Linked DNA regions of Homo sapiens: regions 1, 3 and 4 are each linked to region 2. The links come from fine-mapping of genetic effects on gene expression. A gene starts in region 2. Each other region holds a variant in brackets. All regions are shown on one strand. Distances are from middle to middle.

What was found. PIP is the estimated chance that this variant, and not a neighbour inherited with it, causes the effect.
Region 1: its variant is fine-mapped to the expression of TONSL in unexposed skin (GTEx, PIP 0.91).
Region 3: its variant is fine-mapped to the expression of TONSL in unexposed skin (GTEx, PIP above 0.99).
Region 4: its variant is fine-mapped to the expression of TONSL in whole blood (TOPMed, PIP above 0.99).

Annotation. Positions count from the first base shown.
Region 1 is chr8:144,415,037-144,417,536 of GRCh38, forward strand. It overlaps SLC39A4 (solute carrier family 39 member 4), which reads right to left and starts at 1,808. Exons shown (of 12, transcript NM_130849.4): 1 at 1,562-1,808; 2 at 774-1,055; 3 at 191-383; 4 at 1-74. The coding sequence starts at 1,753. LOC124902041 (a long non-coding RNA gene) reads left to right here. Exons shown (of 2, transcript XR_007061145.1): 2 at 1-2,500. The variant T/G (reference allele first, on the strand shown) is at 1,144.
Region 2 is chr8:144,442,803-144,445,540 of GRCh38, forward strand. TONSL (tonsoku like, DNA repair protein) reads right to left here and starts at 1,638. Exons shown (of 26, transcript NM_013432.5): 1 at 1,588-1,638; 2 at 1,378-1,473; 3 at 1,080-1,222; 4 at 336-519; 5 at 1-4. The coding sequence starts at 1,612. RefSeq lists an enhancer at 530-1,038 and silencers at 1,284-2,053, 2,094-2,233.
Region 3 is chr8:143,677,082-143,679,819 of GRCh38, forward strand. No RefSeq gene overlaps it. Among named protein-coding and RNA genes, the nearest start is that of ZNF707, 6.0 kb to the right of the region's middle. The variant C/T (reference allele first, on the strand shown) is at 1,202.
Region 4 is chr8:144,422,096-144,424,822 of GRCh38, forward strand. It overlaps VPS28 (VPS28 subunit of ESCRT-I), which reads right to left. Exons shown (of 10, transcript NM_016208.4): 7 at 2,623-2,724; 8 at 2,120-2,173; 9 at 1,946-2,037; 10 at 1,522-1,827. The coding sequence ends at 1,710. Among named protein-coding and RNA genes, the nearest start is that of VPS28, 5.1 kb to the right of the region's middle. RefSeq lists enhancers at 1-686, 687-1,456. The variant A/G (reference allele first, on the strand shown) is at 1,275.

The DNA.
Region 1 (2,500 bases), 28 kb before region 2:
TCCCCTGTGCCGATGACTGTGGTCACTGTGGGCCTCCCTGCCCACCCCCAGGCGCTGCATCAAGGCTGACAGCTCTGGCAGGGAGAAGAGTTGGCACCGCGAGTCTGTGTGGGCTCCGGCCCTGCCCCCCAGGGACGTGGAGGCTGGGGACTCGGGGGTGCCCCCCTCCACAGCCCAGCCCAGGCCTCACCGGCCAGCGTCATAGGGACCTCGCTGCTGTGCTGCTGGAACACAAAGTCCACGAAGTACTGAGGGCTCGGCAAGGCGTGGAAGCAAGACCCGCTCCTGACATGGTCCAGCAGGGCAGCCAGGACGCCGCCAGCACTGCCCGGAGCCCCCGCCCCCACCGCCTCCTCCAGCAGCTGAGGGATATCTACGCAGGCCTGGGGAAGAGGGGGCCTCCGCCTCAGCCTTTGGTGTGACCTTCTGCCATCCACCCCGCTGCCCCTGGATGCATCTCCCACCCCAACTACAGGATCTGCCCCCACCAGCCCCGCCCCTCCCTGGAGCCACAGCCCTCCCTGCCGGGCCCAGCTGCTTCAGGCTCCCACTCAGGCCTCTGGGTTCCTCCCTCATGAGGTCCCTCCCGGGGCTCCTACAGGCTCCCAACTGCCCAGTAGTGAGCCCCACGTTGTGAATCCCCAGCCGCAGGCCGACTCCTGGGCGTCTCCCCAGGCCCCCAGGCTCCCCGAAGGCTTTGCAGCCAGGCCGGGTCCCATGGGCCGTGGGACCCTCCTCACCCACTCCCCTGGTCTGCCTGGACTCTCCCTCACCATCTTGGGGGTCTGGCCGGCAGCCCGGGCCTGCATCCTCTGCAGCAGCCAGCTCAGGCCCGGGGTCAGGGCCTTGGGGCTCTCGAGCAGGGCCAGGAGGTGGTCTGCATGAGAGGCCCAGAGGCCAGCCCGAGCGTCCTCACAGGTGCCCTCGGGGTTGCTGAGGTACAGGACGGCGGCGGCACTGAGGCGGGCGACGTACCTGGCCTCCAGGACCGGGCCCGGGGGCAGCCCTGACCCCTCAGGCTCGCCCAGGCCCAGGGCGTCCTCCACAGACAGGCACTGTGGGCAGAGACAAGTGAGCAGGGGCGCTGGGCCCACCAGGGAGGGGAGAGGCAGGCCTGGCCAGGGGCTTCCCCGAGGGCCTGTT[T/G]CCCTTTCAAGTCCAACAACGTCCACCATCCTCTCTCAACCCCTGGCGCCCTTCCGTCTCCCCAGGCCCCTGTCCTGCTTCCCCAACTACAGGGGTGCACGCAGAGGGGTCCCCAACAGTGGTCCCCCATCCCCAGGGGACTCCCCTGGAGCCACTGCCAATTTGATGGCAGAGGGCCGGCAGGGGGAGTTGGCCCTGGGGTCCTGGGGAGAAGAGGGACTGTGTCCCTGGAAAGGCCTGTCTGCCCTCATGAGCAGGAGGGTGGGCTCTGGCCTGTGGGGAGGGTCAGGGTGCCCAGGTACTGCCACTAGCCTCCTCCGCCTCCTGGAGTTTGCCCAGGGCCCTTTGCTGCCGGCTGGCAGGGCGGAGCTGGCGGGAAGAGGCCAGGGCTGGGGGACCCGTCGGGTGGGGCTGTTACCTTTCCACACGGCCCGTTGGCGCAGTGCACACGGTCCGCCAGCGTATTTAACAGGCCGCCCAGAGCCTCTTGATCCAGAGCGCCCTGGCCAGAGGTGAGCAGGCTCAGCAGACCAGCAGGCGGGGACGCCGTCGCCGTCACCACCAGCACAGCCAGAAGCAGCCCCAGCTCCAGCGAGACCAGGGACGCCATACTCAGCTCCCAGCGTGCTCAGTGGGTGTTGCTGTGGCCAAGGCCCAGTGCTTCTGGGCTGGCTGAGGGCGGCTTTGCTGGGGTTGTCCAGGGCCAGACTGGGGCTGGGCTAGGACCCGCCCGGGCTGCATGAGGACCTCTCCCAGGTATTCCTGCAGAGCTCTGTGATTGGCTGCTGGAGATGCCTGGGTTAACCATTCCAGTGGCAGATCCTCCCCAACAGCCTGGAGCCACTGCCTGTGGGGGTCGAGGGCTGGGCCCCTTCCCCTGGACAGGCAGCCTCGGTGGTCTTTTTTTTTTCGAGTTGGAGTTTTGCTCTTGCTGCCCAGGCTGGAGTGCAATGGCGTGATCTTGGCTCACGGCAACCTCCGCCTCCCGGGTTCAAGTGCTTCTCCTGCCTCAGCCTCCCGAGTAGCTGGGATTACAGGCAGCGCCACCACGCCCGGTTACTTTTGTATTTTTAGTAGAGACAGTGTTTCTCCATGTTGGTCAGGCTGGTCTTGAACTCCCAACCTCAGGTGATTCGCCCGCCTTGGCCTCCCAAAGTGCTGGGATTACCGGCGTGGCTCACCACGCCAGGCCAGCCTGGGTGGGCTTCTGTCCTCTGCCTGCTGCCCCCCAAGCTGTGGGGCAGGGCTGGGGTGTCCCCTTCTGGCTGTCCATCTGGGGGCTGCCTCCAAGCTGGGGGACACAGGGCAGAGGTGCACAGATGCCCCCAGAGCCTGAGAGCTCCCAGGTCCCTGCCTC
Region 2 (2,738 bases):
GTCCCTGGAAGATACCCCCCCAAACACTCAGCCACTTCCTCCCCACATGGGGTTTCCAGCTTTGGGCCCCATTTGGGGCCTGTGCAGCGCCTCTCCTACCCCCTCCCTCCTCCCGAGGTGGGTGCAAGTGTCCTGCGGCAGATGGAGCACAGAGTGGATAAAGAGCTGACGATCTCCAGGGGAAAGGTTGAGCGGGGCATGCACCCCTCACACAAGAGCCTTGCAAAGGGAGGGCTCCAGAAGACGGGATTGCCCAAGGAGGCTGCGGGGGTGCTGGGCTGCAGCCTCTTCGGCCCGAAGTTCAGGAGGCAGAAAACGCGGAGGGGTCTGCCCACCCTCCAGCTCCTCATCCACAATAGCCAAGCTCTTCTCAAAGGCAGCCTGTGCCTGCAGCAAAGCATCCCTCGACTGGCAGTGGTCATAGATGTCCAGGTGGGTGCGGCCGATGGTGGCCCAGGCCCTCTGCAGCTCCGTGTGGTTGCGCAGGGAATGTGCCAGCTCCAGGTACTGGTGCTGGTGCTGAGTGTGGAAGGAAGTCACTGCTGTGAGCCGACTCCGCCTCAAGCAAACCGGCACCGCCAGATTCCCAGAGACCCTGTTCTTGCTAAGGAAAGAGCCTGCTCCCCCTAACCCCCACAGAGCAGGCCAAGGCCAGACACGTGCCCCTCCTCTGCATGCCAAGGGCTCTCTGTGGTGACAGTGGCTTCACGCTGTATGCAGCCAACGCTGTCACGTGGGGAGGGGCAGCTGGGAGTTGGCGGGGGGGTTGCAGTCCTGCCTCCAGCAGCCAGGGTCAGGGAGAGCTTTTGGGATGGGGCCTGACCTCCCCCAACACAAACACAGCTAAAATAACGTTCAGTAATGGTTTCTGGTGCCAGGAAACCTACTCCTGCCCCAGTCCCAGGAAAGGCTGTGGGGTCCCCACCGGAGGACTGGCCCGGGGCGGTGAAGGCAAGGCTGCGTCAGGTCAGGTGTCCCCTCCAGCCCGAGGCTCCTGACGGCGAAGACCAGGCCTCCCTCCTCAGAAAAGGGCTCCAGAGGCCGACCGGGCTGGACGAGGCCAGTGAGGGCGCCCGCACCTGCAAGGCAGCCGGGTAGTCCTCCATCTCGGCCAGGCGCTCTCCGATCTTGCGGTGGGCCACGGCACAGCCCAGAGGGTCGTCAGCGCGCTCCCGAAGCTGCAGCTCCTGCCAGTGCTGCTCCAGAGCCTCGGCGTAGCGGCCTAGGCGGGGGCACAGCACGGCCTGGCAGGCGTCGCGGGTGCGAGGGCGGCCCTGGGGCGGCGTCTGCCGGAAGAGCCCGTCGCCCCCCGGCCCCCGATCCCGGCCCGGGCCCGGGCCCCGGCCCTGCCTCCCGCCTCCTGGTCCCGGCGCTCACCATGGCCGGCCAGGAGCTCCCCCAGCTGGTGGCACAGCGCGGCCTCTTCGCGCCGCTGCCCGGCCCTCTGCGCCTTGGCTTTCGCCTTGCTCAGCTCTGTGGGAGGAAGAGGAGGGCTGGGCCTCCGCGGCGGGGTCCGGGGCCGGGGCCGAGTCCCAAGCCCTCCCCAGCCTCCGCGCCCCCGGAGGAAGGGGTCCCCGAGGAACTTACGGCGAAGCTCGCGCTCCAGGCTCATGCTCGGATCGCCGCGGGATCCGGACTTCCCGCGCTGCGCCGCGGCCCCGCCCCTCGCCGCCGACACGCAGGCCCCGCCCCTCGCCGCCGACACGCAGGCCCCGCCCCTCGCCGCCGACACGCAGGCCCCGCCCCTCGCCGCCGACACGCAGGCCCCGCCCCTCGACGGCGGCGGCGGGCGCGGGGCATTCCGGGAAGTACGGTCGGCCCGCCCGCGGCATCCTCGGAGTTCTCGTGCGGGAGGAGCTGGGGCGGGGTGGCGGCGACAACTGGGGCGTCCCACCCTAGGGGCCGTCTTCCCGGACGCCGGGTTGGCCCGCGCGTGGAGCCCTCTGCCCGGCCCGGGGAGTGCCTGGTGGGGACCCCGTTCCTCCTCGTAGGCGGCGGGGACGCGGGAGGCCGGGGGCCCGGAGCCAGCCCGTCCGGGGTCGCAGCGCGCCCTGGGTGGGGTCTTCTGGGCTGCAGCCCCCGTGCCGCCCGCGCTACTCATGGTGGACGAGCTGTGCCGCCGCCCCAATTCCTCCCGAAATTCACACACACAGCCTGCTCACAGGCGCAACTATTAAAAACGAACGTAGTGTCCAGATAGACTGACGATAAATTCACGAGCATTTGGCTGTGGGGACGTAATAAGGTGTCAGGCGCGCTCCTCCTCCGCAGAACGCAGCTGGGTCACATTTGGGGACTCGGCCCCAAGGACTGTTTTGGGAGGGGAATGTGCTTTCCATAGTGAACAAGTATTGTTTCAGCAATGTGTATGCCAGCTGTATTCTCGGAAGAGTCAGTGAACCTGTGCTTCAGCTGCAGAAGTAGCCCGGGCACAGTGGCCCGCACTGTAATCCGAGCGCTATGGGAGGCCCGGTCAGGAGGATCGCTTGAGCCTAGCAGTACGAGACCAGCCTGGGCAACATAGTGAGGCCCCATCTTTCGTGTGTGTGTGTGTGTGAGACGGAGTCTCGTTCTGTCACCCAGGCTGGCGTGCAATGGTGTGATCTCGGCTCACCACAACCTCCGCCTCCCGAGTTCAAGCGATTTTCCTGCCTCAGCCTTCCAAGTAGCTGGGACTACAGGCGCGTGCCAGCATGCCCGGCTAATTTTTGCATTTTAGTAGAGACGGGGTTTCACCA
Region 3 (2,738 bases), 770 kb before region 2:
TCTAAAAAGAACTTGTTTGTATAATGTTATTCTATACAAGGTATGTGCCCAGGAAATGACCAACCTGATGTGTGTTATGACCCATCTGAGCCTCCCATGACCACAGTTTTTCAAATAAGATTAAGAATTAAAGACTGGTGGGGGCTCATAAACAATATGAGTAAAGTGTTAGCCAAAAAAAACAAACAAAAAGAGGTGCCCAAACAAGTCACCTTGAAGTGTGATGCCTGTGCTGTCATTAATACTAATAAGTTAGGAATAGGATGTGGTTCTCTTCATTAGGAAAGAGGCTGTATGGCAGAAAATAAGTACATTTATCATGAGTTAGGACTGTGTGGAAATGAATGTAGTTACTGGTCTTGTGTCATTTAGGCTACTTGGATAAAAAATGAAAAAAATTCTGTCCACCTTCAGAAAAGGAAAAGTGGCCCTTCCTATACCAGTGGTCAGTGTAACCCCTTAGAACTAGTAATAACCAACCCCCTTAATCCTCGCTGGAAAAAAAGGAAATGTGTAACCCTAGAATTTTTTTTTTTTTTTGAGATGGAGTCTCGGTCTGTCACCCAGGCTGGAGTGCAGTGGAGCGATCTCGGCTCACTGCGAGCTCTGCCTCCCGGGTTCACGCCATTCTCCTGCCTCAGCCTCCTGAGTAGCTGGGACTACAGGTGCCCGCCACCACACCCGGCTAATTTTTTGTATTTTTAGTAGAGATGGGGTTTCACCGTGTTAGCCAGGATGGTCTCGATCTCCTGACCTCGTGATCCGCCCGCCTCTGCCTCCCAAAGTGCTGGGATTACAGGCGTGAGCTACCGTGCCCGGCCATAACCCTAGAAATTCATGGGGCTGGACTGGATCTTCAAGTAAATATTGTGGTTTGAGGAGAAGTTTATAAACGCTCTCCTGAGCCAGTATTTCAAACCTTCTATGATGAACTGAATGTGCCAGCACCAGAAATTCCAGGAAAAATAAGAAATTTGTTTGCAATTAGCTGACCATGTAGCCCAGTCTCTCAATGTCACTTCATGCTATGTGTGTGGAGGAACTATAATAAAAGACCAATGGCCACGGGAAGCCCAAGAATTAGTACCTACAGACCCAGTTCCTGACGAATTCCTGGCTCAGAAAAATCACCCTGATAACTTCCGGGTCCTAAAAGCCTCAATCACTAGACAATACTGTATAGCAAGAGTAAGGGGCCGGG[C/T]GCGGTGGCTCACGCCTGTAATCCCAGCACTTTGGGAGGCCGAGGCGGGCGGATCACAAGGTCAGGAGATGGAGACCATCCTGGCTAACACGGTGAAACCCCGTCTCTACTAAAAATATAAAAAATTAGCCAGGCGTGGTGGCGGGCGCCTGTAGTCCCAGCTGCTCGGGAGGCTGAGGCAGGAGAATGGCGTGAACCCGGGAGGCAGAGCTTGTAGTGAGCTGAGATCACGCCACTGCACTCCAGCCTGGGTGACAGAGCAAGACTCCGTCTCAAAAAAAAAAAAAAAAAAAAAAGAGTAAGGAAGGACTTCACCCTTCCTGTAGGACGACTCAGCTGCCTTAGGCAAAAACTGTATAATGGTACTACAAAAACAGCCACCTAGTGGAGTTCAAACCATACTAAGAAAAATCCATTTAGTAAATTCCCAAAGTTGCAAACCGTGTGGACCCATCCGGAGTCCCACCGAGACTGGACAGCCCCCACTGGATTATACTGAATGTGTGGGCATAGGCCTTACACCAAATTACCCGACCAGTGGGCAGGCAGTTGTGTGATTGGCACTATTAAACCATCTTTCTTCCTACTGCCTATAAAGACAGGTGAACTCCTGGGCTTCCCTATGTTTCCCGCGAAAAGAGAAGCATAGCTATAAAAAAATAAGAAAGATAATAAATGGCCCCCTGAGAGAATGATGGAATATTATAGGCCTGCTACTTGGGCACAAGATGGCTTGTGGGGATACCGGACCCCCATCTACATGCTCAACCAAATCATACGGTTACAAGCTGTCTTAGAAATAATCACTAATAGGACCGGCAGAGCCTTGACTATTCTGGCCCGGCAAGAAACTCAGATGAGAAATGCTATCTATCAAAATAAATTGACTCTCGACTACTTGCTAGCAGCTGAAGGAGAAGTCTGTGGGAAATTGAACCTTACCAATTGCTGCCTGCACATACATGATCGGGGCAAGTAGTTGAAGATACAGTTAAAGACATGACGAAACTGGCACATGTGCCTGTACAAGCGTGGCACGGATTTGATCCTGAGGCCATGTTTGAAAATGGTTCCCAGCGCTAAGAGGATTTAAAACTCTTATAATAAAAATTACAGTAGTAATAAGAACCTGCTTACTGATCCGTTGTTTACTACCTGTACTCCTTCAAATGGTAAAAGGTTTCATCACTACTCTAGTTCACCAGAATGCTTCAGCACAGCCGAGCGCGGTGGCTCACGCCTGTAATCCCAGCTTTTTGGGAGGCTGAGGCAGGCGGATCATGAGGTCAGGAGATCGAGACCATCCTGGCTAACGCGGTGAAACCCCGTCTCTACTAAAAATACAAAAAAAAAAAATTAGCTGGGCATGGTGGCGGGCGCCTGTAGTCCCAGGTACTCAGGAGGCTGAGGCAGGAGAATGGCGTGAACCCGGGAGGCGGAGCTTGCAGTGAGCCGAGATCGCGCCCCTGCACTCCAGCCTGGGCGACAGAGCAAGACTCCGTCTCAAAAAAAAAAAAAAAAAAAAAAAAAAAAAGAA
Region 4 (2,727 bases), 21 kb before region 2:
GGAGGCCAAGGCAGGCGGATCACCTGAGGTTGGGAGTTGGAGACCAGCCTGACCAAACATGGAGAAACCCGATCTCTACTAAAAATACAAAATTAGCCGGGAATGGTGGCGTGCCCCTGTAGTCCCAGCTACTCAGGAGGCTGAGACAGGAGAATCACTTGAACCCGGGAGGTGGAGGTCGCAGTGAGCCGAGATCGCGCCATTGCACTTCACCCTGGGCGAGAGAGAGCGACTCCTCAAAAAAAAAAAAAAAGATCAAAATGACCCTTCCTGGCCACCTGCCCCCCTTGACACACACACGTTTCTGGGTGCTGGTCCTCCCTCGAAGCACCCCGTACCCACATGTGCCTGTCAAGGACATCGAGCCCCAGGGCCCGACCCGACAGTGCCCTTCCTCAACTCCCTTGGGTGTCCTGGATCCTGCTGTCCTGGGGGCTCTTCTCTGGCTCCTTGGTCAGTCTCTTCCCACTTCCCATGGCAGTGCCCCTGGCCAGTCCTCCGGCTTCTTGGCGGGACTCAGCCTCCCTCTCCAGCCACTGACATCGTCATCCTGCTTGACGGCCCCCCTTGGCCGTCTGAGAGGCAGTCCCCACTCAGCCTGTGCACAGAGCCCACCTGCCTCCATGATGTCCCAAGCCCCCACGGAAATCCAAGCGACTTGATTTTCACTATCTGCCTTTCTCTACACACCTCATTCCACCGGCTCTAGATGCCACAGATGTCAAGAGGTTCTGGCATTCTCAGTCGCTAAGAGAGAAAAATTCTACAATGACACCCTGGCACGTCCCTTATCCTGAGGGCATAGTTGCTAAGATGTGAAGCACGCGGCTCTTGGAACCCAGAGGTGTGGTGTGTGGTCTGCTGCTTTTCCCTGGGGGCAGCAGCAGGTGTGCAGCACACGCTGTGGAATGGACGGCGTCCACCACCCGCTGCCTCCCCACCAGGCCCAGCCTTGACTCTTGGGCTTTGCCCAGGGGCTTGGGGAGAGGCCCTGGTGGTGGGCATGACAAACTCCCACCCAATGAGTAATTGGCTGGAGCTGCAGATAAGTCAGGAGTCCTGGGCCAGGGTGCAGTCATCCGAGTGGAGAGGTGGGTGTGGAGCAGCTGACAGCATGAAGTGCACCCCGCCTCTGAGCCCAGCCTGGCCTGGTGTGCTGGGACCTGACTGCACTCAGAAGACCTGGTGCTGCCCTGGGCTTCAGTGAGGCGTGGGGAGGGGTGGCAGGCAGCCTCCCCTGTGGCCAGAGTCAAGCCACGCCTGGCCCAGGTGGT[A/G]GACCTGTTCTCCAGGCCTCGGGGCTATGGAAACGCCCCTGCCTCCTATTATGTGCCCAGGCAGAGCCCACCAGGGAAGCAGCCGTCACTGAGTGATGCAGGCCATGAGGAATGCAGTGGCAGGGACAGAGCCAGGGCCGGGCCACCACACAGGTCGGGGGAGGGTAGGCGAGAGGGGCTCTATGCTGAGAGTCCCAGGAGGGTGGAGAGAATACACAGGGCAGGCCTGGGGGAGCCACCCAAGCAGGAAGGTCGGAGAGCATCTTTATTGTGGGGAGGGGCCCGGCCCCCAAAGTTCTGACACCAAAGACAGACACCAGACAGGCAGCTGCAGACAGTGAGTTGTGTGGATGACCACGGCCTGTGTGGCGGACAGGGGACCAGGAGCCATCGCCTCAGACTCTGCCCTTCTGTGCAAGGGCTAGTGCCCCGGGCTCAGGCATGCAGGAAGCGGTTGAAGGCGTTGTAGGCTGACTCCAGGTCGAACAGCATCTGACGCACCTGTGAGTCGTCCAGCTCATCTGACGCCGACATGCCGCTCAGGGTCTGCAGCCTGGGAGTGCAGCACAGGGCATGTGGGGGCTGAGGGCCTCAGGGGCACTGCGGGGCTCCGCCTGGCTGGGAGGGTCTCGGGCACTGCGGGGCTCTGCCTGGCTGGGAGGGACACCCACCACTGGCTGACCGTCTGGCGGCCCTCAAAGTCGGGTGGGAGGTGGCTCATGCGGTGCATGGTCTCCATCAGCTCTCGCAGGTCGGGCTGGATCTGAGACACACACAGCGGCTGGGACCCCGACGCCGGCTCCATCCCCTCCTGCCTAGGCCCCCTGCCAGCCCAATACCCGCACCTCATCCATGGCGCGGATCTCCAGACGCAGCTTGTCCATGACCGTGATGAAGAGCTGGGGGCAGGTGTGCACATGAGGCTCGCGTGTCCACGGGTGCGGGAGGCCCCACGGCTCACGGGCCCCAACCCCTCCTCAGCCACAGCTGTCACTTGGGCCTCCTCACTGTACTCTGTTCCCAAACCCTGCAGGCCTCCTGGGTGAACGAGGTCCTGGCTGCCCAGACAGCTGTGTGGGAACTGAAGGGTGGGCCCACACCCACACTCTCTCCCGAGGCCAGGACCCCGCCAGAACGCACCCTGTGCTCATCCCCCCGACAGGAGTCCAGGTGGCCTGGGGGCGTCCCCGCATGCTGCCCACCCCTCATTCCTAGTTAAAGGGGTTCCCTTCTGCCCAGCAAGTCAGAGTGCTGCTCAGCTCTGGAGGCCCAGGACCCTACGCTCGTGCCCAGCTGCAGCAGGCAGCCTCGGCTCTCCTAACCACGTGCCCTGGGGGCTGGGGCGCACCGAGACCACGTCTGCGATGCAGCGGTTGAGGTTGCCCTTGTCGTCCTTGATGGTGATGGGCCGGTCCTCCTTGATCCGCTCCATGGCCAGCGGGCAGTCCAGCTG